Regions from separate parts of the Homo sapiens genome. Here region 2 is linked to region 1. The links come from fine-mapping of genetic effects on gene expression. A gene starts in region 1. The other region holds a variant in brackets. All regions are shown on one strand. Distances are between the middles of the regions.

Evidence for each region. PIP is the estimated chance that this variant, and not a neighbour inherited with it, causes the effect. A credible set is the group of variants that fine-mapping cannot tell apart.
Region 2: its variant is the best candidate, but not a certain one, in a credible set for the expression of QRSL1 in prefrontal cortex (BrainSeq, PIP 0.56).

Annotation. Positions count from the first base shown.
Region 1 is chr6:106,624,735-106,633,843 of GRCh38, reverse strand. QRSL1 (glutaminyl-tRNA amidotransferase subunit QRSL1) reads right to left here and starts at 4,266. Exons shown (of 11, transcript NM_018292.5): 1 at 4,139-4,266. The coding sequence starts at 4,162. RTN4IP1 (reticulon 4 interacting protein 1) reads left to right here and starts at 4,346. Exons shown (of 9, transcript NM_032730.5): 1 at 4,346-5,096. The coding sequence starts at 4,823. RefSeq lists enhancers at 4,035-4,094, 4,125-4,264.
Region 2 is chr6:106,591,915-106,599,914 of GRCh38, reverse strand. RTN4IP1 (reticulon 4 interacting protein 1) reads left to right here. Exons shown (of 9, transcript NM_032730.5): 6 at 7,615-7,751. Among named protein-coding and RNA genes, the nearest start is that of RTN4IP1, 34 kb to the left of the region's middle. The variant T/C (reference allele first, on the strand shown) is at 4,283.

The DNA.
Region 1 (9,109 bases):
CTCACTAAATGTTAGTTGAATGAATAACAGTTGTTTAAAATTTAGAATCGATTTCCCTATAGAACAATGATTAGTTTTTCTAAAGTTGAAGCTCCAAGAAGCCAAATGAATATATCATTCTTTAAACTTTAGGATTAATAATATTAGCCTGGTGCCTCACTCCTAGAAACACTGGGATCATGCCACAAAAGACAAAGGTAAAAGTGAGATTTCCTCCCCCTTTCTGAATGTACTTGGGTAAAATTTACAAATGGGAATTTTACCTATTTGGCATTTTACCTCCTTTTTGTGCCTATTCCCAGGACTCCTGTTACCATAAGCTTCCACTCACATCCCCCAAATTGCTGCCATCATTTCCAGCCCTTCTCCCTAATTCCCCGCAAATTTCCCCCTCTTCAACTGATTATCTCAATTAAGGTATTATGAAGAAATTTGAACTGTTATAATTTACAACAATGGGTGGAAAAATTGTTCAACCTTCCCAGGCATCTGTACATATTTAAAAGAGAATTAAATTAAAAGATAATTTGTATGAATTAATTAATCTCTAATTGGTAGAATTTAGGGCAACAGTACAGTGATGTGGAAAAAATACAAAGTAGACAGAAGGTAGTTTTAGAGCTGGGGAAATAACCACCAAATATTTTGCATGCTAGGCATTAATCAGTATTTGTTAAAGGAGTGATAAAGTAAAAGCAATCATGCCAAGGCAACCTCTGGATTTTCCCCTGGGTCAGCTCTCCTAAATAGTTCTTTTCTCCCCCCATGCGGCAAAAGTTGTTTTTCACAATGGCTAACTCAATGACACCAGAGAGAAGTAGCACTAAAAAAGGTAGCACTTAAGGAGCTATGACAGTTGTCAAAATCAAAATAGAGTGACTTGTGTTAAAATCCTGACAAATGGAGCCAAGGAAGGTCAAGAAGAGAGGGTTCTCACGCATGAATGCCTGATAAGAAGAACTATCACACTCCAGCTGACAAGGGATTGATAACCGAAGTATATAAGGAGTTCAAACAACTCAACAGGAAAAAATCCAATAATCAAATTAAAAATGGGCAAAAGATTGGAATAGACATTTCTCAAAAGAAAGACATATAAATGGCAAACTGGTATATGAAAATGTGCTCAACATCACTGATCATCAGAGAATTGCAAATCAAAACTACAATGAGATATCATCTCACTCCAGTTAAAATAGCTTCTATCCAAAAGACAGGCAATAATGAATGCTGGTGAGGATGGAGAAAAGTTGGATGAAATGTAAATTACTACAGCCACTATGGAGAATAGTATGGAGGTGCCTTAAAAACCTAAAAATAGAACTACTGGTTGGGCACAGTGGCTCACACCTGTAATCCTAGCACTTTGGGAGGCTGAGGGAGGAGGATTGCTTGAAGCCAAGAATTCAAGACCAACCTGGCCAACATAGTGAGACCCCATCTCTAAAAAAAAAATAATTAAAAATAAATAAATAAAAATAGAACTACCATACGATCCAGCAATCCCACTGCTACGTATATATGCACCTAAAAGAAAGAAAATCAACATAGCAAAGACATATCTGCTCTCTCATGTTTATTGCAGCACTATTCACAATAGCCAAGATTTGAAAGCAAGCTAAGTATCTACCAACAGATGAATGGATAGAGAAAATGTCCTACATGTACACAATGGAGTACTATTCAGCCATAAAAAGAACGAGAGCTTGTCAATTGCAACAACATGGATGGAACTGGAGGGCATTATGTTAAGTGAAATAAGCCAGGCACAGAAAGACAAACTTCCCATGTTCTCACCTATTTGTGGGAGCTAAAAATGAAAACAATTGACCTCGTGGAGGTAGAGTAGAATGATGGTTACTAGAGGCCTGAAAGGGTAGTAGTAGGGGTGGGAAGTGGGGATGGGTAATGGGTACAAAATATAGTTAGACAGAATGAATAAGATACAGTATTTGATAGCACAGCAGGTGATTACAGTCAACAATAGTTTATTGTACGTTTAAAAATAACTAAAAGAGTATAACTGGAACGTTTGTAACACAAAGAAATGATAAATGCTTGAGGTGATGGATACACCATTTACTCTGATGTGATTATTATGCATTGTATGCCTGTATCAAAATATCTCATGTGCCCCATAAATACATACACCTACTATGTACCCATTAAAATTTTTTTTTAAAAACAATCATAAGACTGCAAAAAACACAACCTTGCACAAAGGCCATTGCAACCTTCCACACACACGAGTACTTCTGTAAGAATGTCTGTCCAGCAACTGGCCATCCAACCTTGGACTGATGCCACCTTTGTGACTGATCCTTGTGGCCAAGGATAACTGATTCAAAATAATTTAAGTAATCCTTCTCATTCTGTCTTTAAAAACATCCCTTGCCTCAACCTTCTTGAATAGGCACATAGTTTACAATATTACACATATTCCCATTGCATTGCTACTCCAAAATAAATATTTTCTTTAGAGTCTCTTTCTGTTACTTAGATTGACAGTGGAAAAGGCAGAAAAAGGAAATAACATATTTTTATAGGTTGTATTTAATTTTAAAACAAGTTTTGGGTGTTGTCTGTTTATTTATTTTTATTTTATTTATTTATTTTTTGAGACGGAGTCTTGCTCTGCCGCCCAGGCTGGAGTGCAGTGGCGTGATCTTGGCTCACTGCAAGCTCCGCCTCCCGGGTTCACGCCATTCTCCTGCCTCAGCCTCCCGAGTAGCTGGGACTACAGGCGCCCGCCACTACGCCCGGCTAATTTTTTGTATATTTAGTAGAAATGGGGTTTCACCGTGTTAGCCAGGATGGTCTCGATCTCCTGACCTCGTGATCCACCCGCCTCGGCCTCCCAAAGTGCTGGGATTACAGGCGTGAGCCACCGCGCCGGGCATATTTATTTTTTAAAGAACAAATTTGATTCGACGCAATTTAAAATGATAACATAATAATGTATTTTGGGGGAAGAACTATTATTTAAAGCCTGTGGATTTCAATTTCTCATTATATATTACAGCTATCTATAATTATAATTCCACGCTGCCAGCTGGGAAACAAACAAAACGACAACTTCTAGGGTGGAATAAAAAGGAAGATGGAAGGCAGTTTAGGTCATCAGCGCCTACTTCTTACCAGAAATCACCTGGAGCCTCCATTAAACCATACTCCCGAACTTACCACACAGCTCTAATTAAGTCTAGAGTGGGGCATAGTTTTAGTTTCAACAGGTGCTTTATGTGACTCTGATAGCAATGGGCCTGCAGACAGTTCTAAGGTTGAGTGACGTGAACCAGGAAGCAAAAAGACCCGAATTAAAGCTATAACAGCAGAAATAACGTAAGAGGGCAGATTCCAGCCATATCTGCAAGATAGAATGAAGAGGGCTTAGTGATTTATTGGATATGAAAGATGAGGAAGAATCTAAAGGCAAATGAGATAATAGTTGTGCCATTAAAAAGAGTCTATTAAGAATTCAGAAATACCAGAGCTTTTTTAAGACGGGGGTTGAGAGGTAAGTCCTGTTACAATGATTACTTCAACACCGATTAAAGTGAATTTGAGGGTGCTTATGTGACATTTAGAAGAACTGCCCAGAAAGCATTCACAAATACAGTCTAGAATTCAAACACGACGTCCAGGACATGGAGACACGGGTTAGGAAATCACTGGTATCTTAGTGGTAGGTAAATCCTAGAGAACGAATTCTTTGAAAAAAGCCAAAAATTACTCATTTGAATTTTGCAAACTACAGTTTCGCCGGGCTTCTTAGCGACAACTGCAGCTAAGTGTCGGGGACAGAAGAGAGACTGAAGTGGCCCCGCAAGCCCCCTTTGGCAAAGCCCACTCCGAGACCATCCGGATCCCGACCTACACCAGAGCAAATGTCTAATGGTGAGAAGCCGCTTCACCACCCTACAGATCCGCGGTGCAGAGATTTCCCTGCTAAGGTCCTAACTCCTGAATGGGTACGGCGAGTACACCCGAAGAATCGAAAGGTACTTATCCCCCACTCAGTTCTAGAGGAAGCAGCGAGGTGGGCCAAGATGCGTGGTAAGGCCCAGGGACTCTTTGTCAACGAAGTCCGTTAAACTTTCCGCCCTCCCGGGGGCCTCAGCGGGCCAATTCCACTCACTTCTCGGAGGCTCCGGCCCAGCATGGTCCTCGTGCCCAGCCTGCCACCACAGGAGCCAGGCAAGGGGGAAAAAGAGGTCACCGGTCGCTAGTGATGTTACATGGGCGCAGCCATCTTTAATTGTCACTGAGCCCTTCAACACCGAGTACTTGGATTGGTTGAATTGCAGCCCGAGGAAATGATCTTTGTAGGCGATTGGTTGGCGCCGCAAAGCCATCCCGGCGGCTAAGGAGAGCGGGCAGGCAAGGAGATTCCGGGCCAGGGTCGCGGCGGCAGTCGGCAAGCGTTCGATTCTCTGGCGTTGGATCGCGAGCGGTGTCTGCTTGTCCCGCCGAGGGCTCCCAGGACAGGGCAGGGATCTAGGGGGTTTGCGCACCTGCTTTTTAATGCCCCGCCCCCCCTTTTTTTTTTAAAGTGGAGGGGGTGAAAGTGAGGGAGGAGAATGGACAGAATACTGACTGGAACGTTAATTCGAGCATTTCATATGCGAAGAGCGGAATAACAGTTCCGTATTCTTCTTTCAGTTTCTCCATTAGATTAGCTTCATTTTCGAATGCTCCGTTTTGCATGCTTAATTTTGAAACTAGCCCGTGGTTTGGCAGAATTTGACTGAATTCAGGGGTGAGAGTTTGATCCAGTCCAAGTGTATTTGAATTTGAGCACGCAGTTCAACCAGTGTTTACAATGGAATTTCTGAAGACTTGTGTACTTAGAAGAAATGCATGCACTGCGGTTTGCTTCTGGAGAAGCAAAGTTGTCCAAAAGCCTTCAGTTAGAAGGATTAGTACTACCTCTCCTAGGAGCACTGTCATGCCTGCTTGGGTGATAGATAAATATGGGAAGAATGAAGTGCTTCGATTCACTCAGAACATGATGATGCCTATCATACACTATCCAAATGAAGTCATTGTCAAAGTTCACGCTGCCAGTGTAAATCCTATAGACGTTAATATGAGAAGTAAGTTTTCAAAAGACATTGTTACCTTTTTTAAAAAAATCACTTTCATAAGGTATGCCGTTTTAAAAAATTGACTACGCTTCTTTGGTTTACATAAATGAATCATTTAGGTTTTTAACAATACCTCTGCAAATATTTCCAAAATTTTTGAAATTGCAATGGCCAGGGAATCCTTCTGGCCATTTGTATTGACAAAATATAAGCTTGATTGTTTTCATGCGTCCTTAAATATGTAAGTTCAGACTTGAGAACTGTGTCTGTAGCTAACTTTTTTTTTTTTGAGACTGAGTCTCACTCTGTCACCCAGGCTAGAGTGCGGTGGCCTGATCTCAGCTCACTGCAACCTCCGCATCCTGGGTTCAAGCAATTTCTCCTGCCTCAGCCTCCCGAGTAGCTGGGATTACAGGCGCATGCCACCACACCGGGCTAATTTTTTGTATTTTTAGTAGAGATGGGGTTTCACTATGTTGGTCAGGCTGGTCTCGAACTCCTGACCTCAGGCGATCCTCTGCCTCCGCCCCCTAAGTGCTGGGATTACAGACGAGCCATTGCGCCCTGCCTATGTTTGTAGCTAAATTTCTGTCCAGGGAACTTTGTGGTATTCTGAGATCCGTCACAGGCTTCGGAAGTATAGTTGTTTCCTAGTCAGTTTAGAATTTATGGGGTTTTTTGTTTGTTTTTGAGACAGAGTCTCACTCTATCGGCAGGCTGGAGTGCAAGGGCGCTTTCCTGGCTCACTGCAACCTCCGCCTTCCGGGTTCAAGCGATTCTCCTGCTTCAGCCTCCCAAGTAGCTGGGACTACAGACATGCGCCGCCACACCCAGCTAATTTTTGTATTTTTATAGAAACGGGAGTTTCACTGTGTTGGTGGGAGGCTGAGGCAGGAGAATCGCTTGAATCCGGAAGGCGGAGGTTGCAGTGAGCCAAGAACGCGCCCTTGCACTCCAGCCTGCCGATAGAGTGAGACTCCATCTCAAAAAAAAAAAAAAAAAAAAAAAAAAAAGCATTGAAATGACTTTACTGTGATTGTCTCATGAAGTCTACGTTTGTATTCTTTGTTTTGAAGTAGTAATTGCTACTACCAGTTGGGCATGCCGTTTTCCTTTATTCTTTTTATATTAGGCTTGAAGAGAATTCAGTTTTTTATAAGATATGTCTTTTAGTGGTAAGTTTTACTCAATGATCAGCATGTTTTTTCATCTCCTTTGATTGTAAGTTCTTTCAAGATTGATCCCATGCTTTGTCAACCTGTTTCAGTGCTTCACATACGCAGTTGTCATTCAGTCACTATTTCTATGCCTTTTTATATTTTTGTTCTGACTTAAGATAACAAACTTAAATTAGCAGTATTTTATCTATGAGTAATTTTTACATTTTGTCTTCGTTTAGGTCTGTTAGCTTTTTATTTCTTTAAATGCACATGCGTAATTCATGCCGTGTACATTTTCATTTAAACAGAATGGCTGTATCTAGACTTTTCTTGGCTGCTGTTTAATAATATAACACTGTAAAACATTTTACTTTTATATAGTATTCTTGAAACATCTTAGTTTTTTATGACTTGAATGGGTAATATTATTCGCAAGTTATCCTCTTTTTTTTTTTCTCCTACCTTTTGAGGATATTTATTGTCATTGCAGAAGATATCTGAAACAGTAGCTTGGGGAAATAAAATAATGAGTAGAAGACTGTAAACTGTAGGAAGCAGTTATTTCCCTTGGCAAGAAAGCAAGAGACATGTCTATTTTATTTGAAAGATGAAGGCTGGCTGTTTTTCTGGAGACGGCCACTACTGTTGGACGTAAAATAATAAATCATAGAAATGGCTAAAGAAATGAAGAATTTTTACATGGGGAAAAAATGCAGCCAACAGCATCATACCAACAAAGTTTGGTGTCTTTAGATGGGATTAAAGTCTTTAAACTGATGACAGATTTAGGATTTTTCAAATTGGCCCAACTCTCTGAACAAGTCAAGGTGTCAACCCCTGTCAATAGGATGGAACACTTAAGGGCCCCATTCAGTCATCCGTGTCACCAAACAGGTTCTCAATTACTAACTGCCAGCTGACTACATTCTGGGTTCAGGGGCTTGTTAGATAGTAACAGTGAGCCAAGGCTACTCAGTTGATGTATTAGCATTATCAGGGGACCAAGAAAACTAAAAACAACCTTGGGCTGCAGGCTCTGTATCTCAAAGAGGACTGAAACCTTTCTGCAGCTCTTAAACAGCAGCTAAAGTTTGACACGACTAAATGTCCACTTCTGTTGTTCAAACCACATAGAAGTTTCAGTGAATAATTGTTTAATTATCTTTAGCAGTGGAAAAGGAATGTAAGGCAGGAAAAGTGAAGCACATGACTTTTGTGAATATTACAAGTGAAGTTGTTTTTTTTTTCCCTGACAGAGTATAATCCTGACTCCCCAGATGGCAAATGTTGTAATGTTGGTATAATGGCCATCAGCTTAGATTTTCTGGGACTTTCCCACCTTTCAAACACTTTATCCCATGTGTCTTGATTTTTTATTAGTAACACAACTCATGCAAGCTACCCACCTGTCAGCATCTCTCTCGGTATCTTCTACCTTCCCTCCTGCTGTATGGATTAGCTGTCACTGCTTTCACATAAGGCCAGCCCTCGGCTTGTGTTTCTGATCCCATCCCCCTCACCTACTCTGGGATATCATTCCGGCAGGTGTCTCCTGCATCATCAGTCTTTTCTTTTCTACTGGATCATCTCCATTAGTATACAGACTTGCTGTTATTTCTCCTTTCTTAAGAAGAAGGAAAAGGCTGGGCACAGTGGCTCACACCTGTAATTCCAGCACTTTGGGAGGCCGAGGCAGGTGGATCACCTGAGATCAGGAGTTCGAGACCATCCTGATCAACATGGAGAAACCCCGTCTCTACTAAAAATTAGCCAGGCGTGGTGGCGCATGCCTGTAATCCCAGCTACTCAGGAGGCTGAGACAGCAGAATCGCTTGAACCCGGGAGGCGGAAGTTGCAGTGAGCCGAGATCACGCCATTGCACTCCAGCCTGGGCAACAGAGCAAGACTCTGTCTCAAAAAAAAAAAAAAAAAAAAGAAAAAAAAGAAAAAAGCCACTCAAAAGTCCTCTGTCCATCCCAGTTCCCACTTCGAGCTACTGCTCCATTTCTCTGCTCCCTTTGCAACAAAACTGTTTTAAAGAGAGTTCAGTCTTCTCATGTCTCCAGTCCCTTATTTCCCATTCTCTCAAAAGTGCACTACACAGCAGTTGCTCCTGGCAGGGTTACCAAAGGTCTGTTAGATCCAGGCTTGTTTGTTTGTTTTAAAGCCTCTTAGCATCTTTGGACCTTATTTGAAAACCTGTCTCCCGTCAGCAGCATTGAATGTCTTTAAACTGCCGCCTTAGTCTCCTTTGCTGCTTTCTCCTCATCCCTAAGATCTAATGGATTGCCCACAGGAGTGGGTGCGGGGCAAGGGGAGACGTACAGAGTGGGTTAGTGACTGTGGAGCATGCGTTGTGGGGCAGGGAGTGAGTGGTACATGACACTGGAGAGGTAGGCAGGGTGCCTATCATGGAAAGCCTCACATGGCAGACAGGTTCTCAAAAAAAGGTCAAGCAGAAGAGAGAATAACAGATACTTTTGGGTCTGAGAAAAGTCACGTTGTATATGGAAGCCATGTAATAAATTACTCTGGATTATTATAGAGTAGCAAATTTACTTGAACCAAAAAATTAAAAGAATGTTTTCAGTTTTATTTAGCTGATATTTATATAAGTATTCTTTTTCTTTTTCTTTTTCTTTTTCTTTTTTTTTTTTTTTTGAGACAGAGCTTTGCTTTGTCACCTGGGCTGGAGTGCAGTGGTGTGATCATGGCTCACTGCAGTCTCAAACTCCTGGGCTCAAGCAATCCTCCTGCCTCAGCCTCCTGAGTAGCTGGGATTACAGGCATGTACCACTATGCCTGGCTAATTTTTAAAATTTTTAGTAGAGATGAGCTCTAGGCTGGTTTTGAACTCCTGAA
Region 2 (8,000 bases), 33 kb after region 1:
GATACAGCCACTTAAGAAAACCATTTGGCATCTACTAAATGTCAATATAAATTGTAAAATTTCTAAAAAAAAAAAAAAGGACAGCACAAGAATTCCTATTTTAGGATTATAACCTATAGATAGATATACAAGTATGTTTACCAAAAGATATGTACCAGAATTTCAGAGCAGGGCTATTCCTGTTAAAATTCCCCAACTAGAAAAACCCAAATGTCCATCAACAGTAAAATGAGTAAGTAAATTGTGGTATATTCTTACATTGGAATATTATGCAGTCATGAAAAAACTATAATTGCACACAGTGAAGTGGATGAATACCACAACCGAGTGTTGAGTAAAAGAAATCAGATGCAAAAGTACATCCTATATCGTTCCATTTAATGACATTCAAGAACAAGTGAAACTAAGCAGTGGTGTTTAAGGGTGGTGTCTACTTAGTAAAACTTCTTAAAAAAAAAAAAAAGCAAAAAGGGTTACACTAAAGGTCCAGTTAGTAGTTACTTTTTAAGGGAGTTGAGGAGGTTTTAATTGGGAGGCTTAGGGACACAGGTGGTATTCTAATTCTTAATTTTGAATAGTGGTTATAATAATATTTGCTTTGTAATAATTTGTTAAGCTGTATATTTATATTCTGTATGCTTTTATTTGTATTATATTTTACAACAAAAAATTTTAATAAAATTAAAAAGTAATAGAAAAGCATCAAGGTTAAATCCCATACAAAGCTATTATAAGGAAAGGGAAAATAAGGTATAGAATAACATGCCCTATAATAAAAGCACATCAGAATACATGCCTACAGAACAGCCTGAAATGTCACCTACTATTTCAAAGCAAGTTAAAAGACATTAAAAATATAATACAAGATGTGAAAAAAACAAAATAAATCAGAATAGGAAAAAATCAGGAAAAAAGTAAAACTAAATGAAAAAATCATTTAGTAATAGAAGACTAAACTAAGAGGAACTCAATAGCAAGTAAACACAACACATAATGCTCCTTAATAGAAACAAAATGCATGGATCCCTTCCTTACACCTTATACAAAAATCAATTCAAGATGGATTAAAGATTTAAACGTTAGACCTAAAACCATAAAAACCCTAGAAGAAAACCTAGGCATTACCATTCAGGACATAGGCATGGGCAAGGACTTCATGTCCAAAACACCAAAAGCAATGGCAACAAAAGACAAAATTGACAAATGGGATCTAATTAAACTAAAGAGCTTCTGCACAGCAAAAGAAACTACCATCAGAGTGAACAGGCAGCCTACAACGTGGGAGAAAATTTTCGCAACCTACTCATCTGACAAAGGGCTAATATCCAGAATCTACAATGAACTCAAACAAATTTACAAGGAAAAAACAAACAACCCCATCAAAAAGTGGGCGAAGGACATGAACAGACACTTCTCAAAAGAAGACATTTATGCAGCCAAAAAACACATGAAAAAATGCTCATCATCACTGGCCATCAGAGAAATGCAAATCAAAACCACTATGAGATATCATCTCACACCAGTTAGAATGGCAATCATTAAAAAGTCAGGAAACAACAGGTGCTGGAGAAGATGTGGAGAAATAGGAACACTTTTACACTGTTGGTGGGACTGTAAACTAGTTCAACCATCGTGGAAGTCAGTGTGGCGATTCCTCAGGGATCTAGAGCTAGAAATACCATTTGACCCAGCCATCCCATTACTGGGTATATACCCAAATGACTATAAATCATGCTACTATAAAGACACATGCACACGTATGTTTATTGCGGCATTATTCACAATAGCAAAGACTTGGAACCAACCCAAATGTCCAACAATGATAGACTGGATTAAGAAAATTTGGCACATATACACCATGGAATACTATGCAGCCATAAAAAATGATGAGTTCATGCCCTTTGTAGGGACATGGATGAAATTGGAAATCATCATTCTCAGTAAACTATCGCAAGAACAGAAAACCAAACACCGCATATTCTCACTCATAGGTGGGAATTGAACAATGAGATCACATGGACACAGGAAGGGGAATATCACACTCTGGGGACTGTGGTGGGGTGCGGGGAGCGGGGAGGGATAGCGTTGGGAGATATACCTAATGCTAGATGACGAGTTAGTGGGTGCAGCGCACCAGAATGGCACATGTATACATATGTAACTAACCTGCACAATGTGCACATGTACCCTAAAACTTAAAGTATAATTAAAAAAAAAAAAAAAGAAACAAAATGCAGAAAAAAATTCAAATTACAAAAGAAACAAAAAGATAGGCTGGGCACAGTGGCTCACCCTGTAATCCCAGCACTTTGCTAGGCTGAGGAGGGCAGATTGCTTGAGCTCAGCGATTCAGGACCAGCCTGGGCAACATGGCAAAACCTCGTCTCTACAAAAAATACAAAAATTAGCTGGGCATGGTGGCTCATACCTGTAATCCCAGCTATGGAGAGGCTGAGGTGTGAGGATCACTTGAGCCCAGGAGGTCGAGGCTGCAGTGAGCTGTGATCACACCACTGCACTTCAGCCTGGACAGAGTGAGACCTATCTCAAAAAAACAGAAAAAGATAAAAACAGAGTCAAGAGAAAGTATCAAATATTGATGACAGGCAAGGAAAATTGATATATGGATACTAGGAGTCCTCGAAGGGGAAAACCAAAGCAAGGGAATTGAACCCATATTAAAACAATAATTAAAGAAACTTTCCTACTGTCCTGAAATTAAATGATTTGAAATTACATATTGAATAGACACATCACTTTTCTAAGGACATGGACCCAGACTGAGCAACACTAAGGAAAATTACTAATAAAAATGTGGAGAAAAATTATAGTGAAATTACTGGCCTTTAAAGAAAAAAGAAATAAGATCCTTTGGAAATCTAGACAAAATAGCACATGTGCTACTTATGTGTCCATATAAGAAAAAAGATGACGTGACTTATAAGAGAAATAAAATTAGACTATCATGAGACTTTTTGGCAGTAACACTTTTGGCAGAAAAAAATGGAGTAACATATTTAAGATACTCAAGGAAGAGTGCGCCAAGAATCTTTTATACAACAAAACAGGCCTTCAGGTATCATGGACACATACAGACTGTTATCAACATGAAGAACGTGGGGAATATTGTTCTTCTGATCCTTTTCTGAGGAATCTACTAGATAATGAGCTTCTGACTAGGAATGACTATGAAGACATTTTAAGGACTAGTGGTAAATGTTCAACACAATTACCTGTAGAACAAAACTAAATGAGGGCTTAGAAGGAGAGAGTGTAGGAACAGCCATATGTTCTGATAAGGTAAATACAGTGCAATAGTTGTCATTATTTTTGAGACAGTGTGTTGCTCTGTCATCCAGGCTGAGATGCAGTGACATGATCACAGCTCACTGCAACCTCAACCTCCTGGGCTCAATGATCCTCTCACCCCAAACTCCTGAGTAGGTAGAACTACAGGCACATGCCACCATGCCCAGCTAATTTTTTCACGTTTTTGTAGCGATGGGGTCTTGCTGTGTTGCCTGGGCTGGTCTCAAATTCCTGGCCTCAAGCAACCTTCCTGCCTCAGCCTCCCAAAGTGCTGGGATTTTGTAGTCTCAAATTAGAATTGGAAGTATCAATATGAACTCAAGAGATATTTTGTGTATGTGTGTATGTAAAGCCATCACTTGAAATATCATTTCTCACTGAAACAAGGCAGGGCTTCTTAGAGAAGTAGCTGATTTCAGATCTAGAGCACAAATATAAAGAATTAACCTGGAGTATATTAAATAGCAAGGAAGATATCAAAGACTAGTCAGGTCATGTCAAAAGACTCAAGAGCTAACTTGAAGAAATGCCCAAAGATGTAACAGTTTGAGCTTCAGTAATAATAATGACCATTACAATGGGTTGAAACCTTTTAAATATATTTAAATCCATGAGTTCATGATACTTTTTTCAAAAGAGGTCACTTTTGGAATTTGATAGGGAACCAATTTATTATCTTATAAACTGATAAAGAAAAACAGTTAAGCATTTGTCTTGCCTTTCCTACATTAACTGTATAATTGAGCAGACAAAATAATATGTGAGGGGCAGTGATATGAGGGGCAGTGTTATTTTGTGAAAGTATTCAGGCTGGACGCGTTGGCTCATGCCTGTAATCTCAGCACTTTGGGATGCCAAGGCGGGCAGATCACCTCAGGTCAAGGGTTCCAGACCAGCCTGGCCAACATGGCGAAACCCCTTCTCTAATAAAAATACAAGAATTAGCCGGGCGTGGTGGTGGGCACCTGTAATC[T/C]CAGCTACTCGGGAGGCTGAGGCAGGAGAATTGCTTGAACCTAGGAGGCAGAGGTTGCAGTGGGCAGAGATCACGCCACTGCACTCTAGCCTGGGACAGAGCGAGACTGTCCCCCACAAAAAAAAAAAAAAAGAAAGAAAGTATTCCAACTACTTAAATAAAAGAAGTAGAATTAGAAGATCACTATTTCGCAACCACCAATAAGCAGATATGGGTATTAAGCATTGACAGCTGCTAAGATAATAAAGAGAGCCTCAAGCAGACATGATGTGCCTCCTCTAGTTTTGCCAGACACTGTCCATAGTTTTGCTAAAGGGATTGAAATGGAATCAGATCTAGTCTCCAGATCCATCTGCCGAGTTGCAGAAAATACAGAGGACAGAGCGACGTGTGGAACTGTCCCGTGGGTGTGCAGTTAGAAATTCCAGACTGTGGGAAACTCCACAGATCAAATGGCCTAGATTCTTCCATAGATAAATTATAGGAAAGCAAAGGGATAGAACAGGAGCCTATGATTTAAAAGAGACTTAAGGCCGGGCACAGTGGCTCACACCTGTAATCCCAGCATTTTGGGAGGCCAAGGCGGGTGGATCACGTGAGCTCAGGAGTTCAAGACCAGCCTGGCCAACCTGGTGAAATCCCATATCTACTAAAAATACAAAAATTAGCCAGGCGTGGTGTGACGTGCCTGTAGTGCCAGCTACTCGGGAGGCTGAGGGCAGGAGAATCACCTGAACCTGGGAGGTGGAGGTTGCAGTGAGCCGAGATCATGCCACTGCACTCTAGCCTGGGCAACAGAGTGAGACTGTCTCAAATAAAAAACCAAAACAACCCAAAAATAAATAATAAAAAAAGAGATTTAAAAGATACCACGTTTTAAGAATGCACAAGACTATAGTGTCTAGAGACTGCATTGTTGGGTGATAAACTTTTTGAAATGCAAGGAGGTGATTACTATAAAAATCAGAATAATTATTTTGGGAAAGGGTAGGAGGGGCTTCTGTGGTTTGGGGCACATGGGAGAATTTTTGGCATAGCTTCCAGTGTGCTGCTGCTTTATCTGGGTGGTGTTCACCCTATAGCTGTTTTCTTTCTTTCTTTCTTTTTTTGTTTTTTGTTTTTTGAGACAGAATCTCACTCTGTCACCCAGGCTGGAGTGCAGTGGTACGACCTTGGCTTACTGCAACCTCCACCCCCGCCGGCTCAAGCGATCCTCCCACTTCAGCCTCCTGAGTAGCTGGGACCACAGGCATGCATCACCAGGCCCAGCTACTTTTTTGTATTTTTAGTAGAGACGGGGTTTCACTACGTTGCCTAGGCAGGTCTCAGACTCCTGAGCTCAAGTGATCCATCCATTTCAGCCTCCCAAAGTGCTGCGATTACAGGTATGAGCCACCACACCCCGTCTATAGGTGTTTTCTATAGTTGTGTTTTATATTACATGAAAAATTTTTATTAAGTAAAACTGTTTTTAAAACATTTTCATAATGTTCAAAGATAATAAATAGCTCTAAATGGGAAAGGAAAAACTAGAAATTTGAGGGGAAAAACCAGAAATTTGAGGAAAAAAACCTGTTTCAACATGTGACAGATTCTTCCTGAGGATTTAATACTGTTTAAAGAAAAACATGTATTAAATGTGGGTGCTTAGAACATACTTTTCTTTTTCCTCAATAGTTTCTTTTTTAATATAGGTATAGAGAAAGGATGGTCACAATGAGCTATTCATCTTGGATTATATTCTTCACATATTTGAATTTGATTTGGGACTTGCTGTGAAAAGCAACGTATCATTACACTCAAGTGTCTCTGTTTGCAGCCCATAAACAATAAATTGTATATCATATCACTCCTAAATATTTCAATTCCCCACAGATTTTCAGGATATATAAGTCTTTGGTCAATGTTGCTTTTTAAAAGTGAGAAATTGGGTAAGATTATGAATAAGTTAAAAACCCTTTATTTACATTTTGTATTTAACAGAAATTTACTAAGCACCTTTGTGTGCCATGGAGTAGGGATTCAATAGTGAACCAGACAAACACAGATCCCTTGTATTCTAGTGAGCCTTTATATCTTATATTAAGGAAGTTCAGGAAATTGATACTTAGGACAAGATTGAGAAAACAAGTGATCTCTTATGATCTATAATTATCTGCACAAAAATTTCTTAGTAATCTTCAAGTGGCTATTCTCAAATTAGCTGAAAATAGCCCCCTTTTAAGTCTATGAAATTAACATTATAGAAAAGAATTTTAGCAATTTTGGAGCAGAATGCTTTCTGGATACTTAATTCTGAATAACATTAGAATTTAGCTCTCCTTTTAATTTAAATCTAGTTATTCTTTATTATTTTAAAATATAAGGCATCTGCATTTTAAAACCTGGGTAACATTTATTTAGGTTTTCTTACTCCAAGGGAGAGGACCTGATCCAAGTTTTTAAGAAAAAATGATTATAGTTTCTTCCCCTTCTTTTTAAGAGAACCTTTTCATATGTTACCTATTACTTAATAGCTCATTACTTTGACACGCTTTCTGATTCAATATTGTGTTAACACTTATTAGAGATGCAAATGAAGATATGTGGCATTTTAATGTTCTGTATACATTTTAAATAGTCATTTTTCTGAAGACATACTATTTTTGGGCCATTTAACTTTGCTATCCTTGAAAGTGCTAAATTTGAGGCTTTTTTTTTTTTGAGATGAAGTCTCACTCTTGTACCCCAGGCTGGAGTGCGATGGCACGATCTTGGCTCACTGCAACCTCTGCCTCCGGGGTTCAAGCGATTCTCCTGCCTTGGCCACCCAAGTAGCTGGGATTACAGGTGCCCGCCCGCTACCATGTCCAGCTAATTTTTTATATTTTTAGTAGAGACGGGGTTTCACCATGTTGGCCAGGCTGGTCTCGAACTCCTGACCTCAGGTGATCCACCTGTCTCGGCCTCCCAAAGTGCTGGGATTACAGGCGTGAGCCACCGCACTTGGCAAATTTGAGGCTTTCAACTCCTGTCTTTTCTGTTACTGTTGAGGCACTGAGTCCCTCTCTAAGTGGATTAGTTATAACTTCATGACAATAAGGTGGCTGGCTGTCTCATGTAGGGAAAATGAGATCTCTTTCTTGGGATTTTCTTACTGAACAAAAGTTTGACCATTTTTACTAGTCTCTGACAGATGGCTTCCTATAGTTCTGGTTAAGATGACGTACTTAAAGTTCTCTAGAGATTAGTCTGATATATGTATACATGGTGCCAATGATTTTTTTTTCAATGCAGTCAGTTTTTCTAATCTCTCCCTTTTTTATTCTTTTTTTCTTTTTGGTGGGGGGCAGGTAATGAAAGCATGGGATGCTCATGTGACAGCAGTTTGCTCCCAAGATGCCAGTGAACTTGTAAGGAAGCTTGGTGCAGACGATGTAATTGATTACAAATCTGGAAGTGTGGAAGAGCAGTTGAAATCCTTAAAACCGTATGTATTAGAACAATGTTCACACTGGGAGTGGGAACAAGGACAGTTGATTATGCAGGTCTGAGATGGCTTGGTGGCTTTACAATCATGTTGGAATCTTGAGAAGGATCTATGAAAACATTCCATGTCACTAGAAGTTACTTAGGTTGGCTTCTGTTTTAATTCCAGATGTTAATACAACACAGTAACAGCATGTGGATAGGCACTGAGGAAGTTATTTTGCTTACATGGTCTTTGCTAATTTTTAAG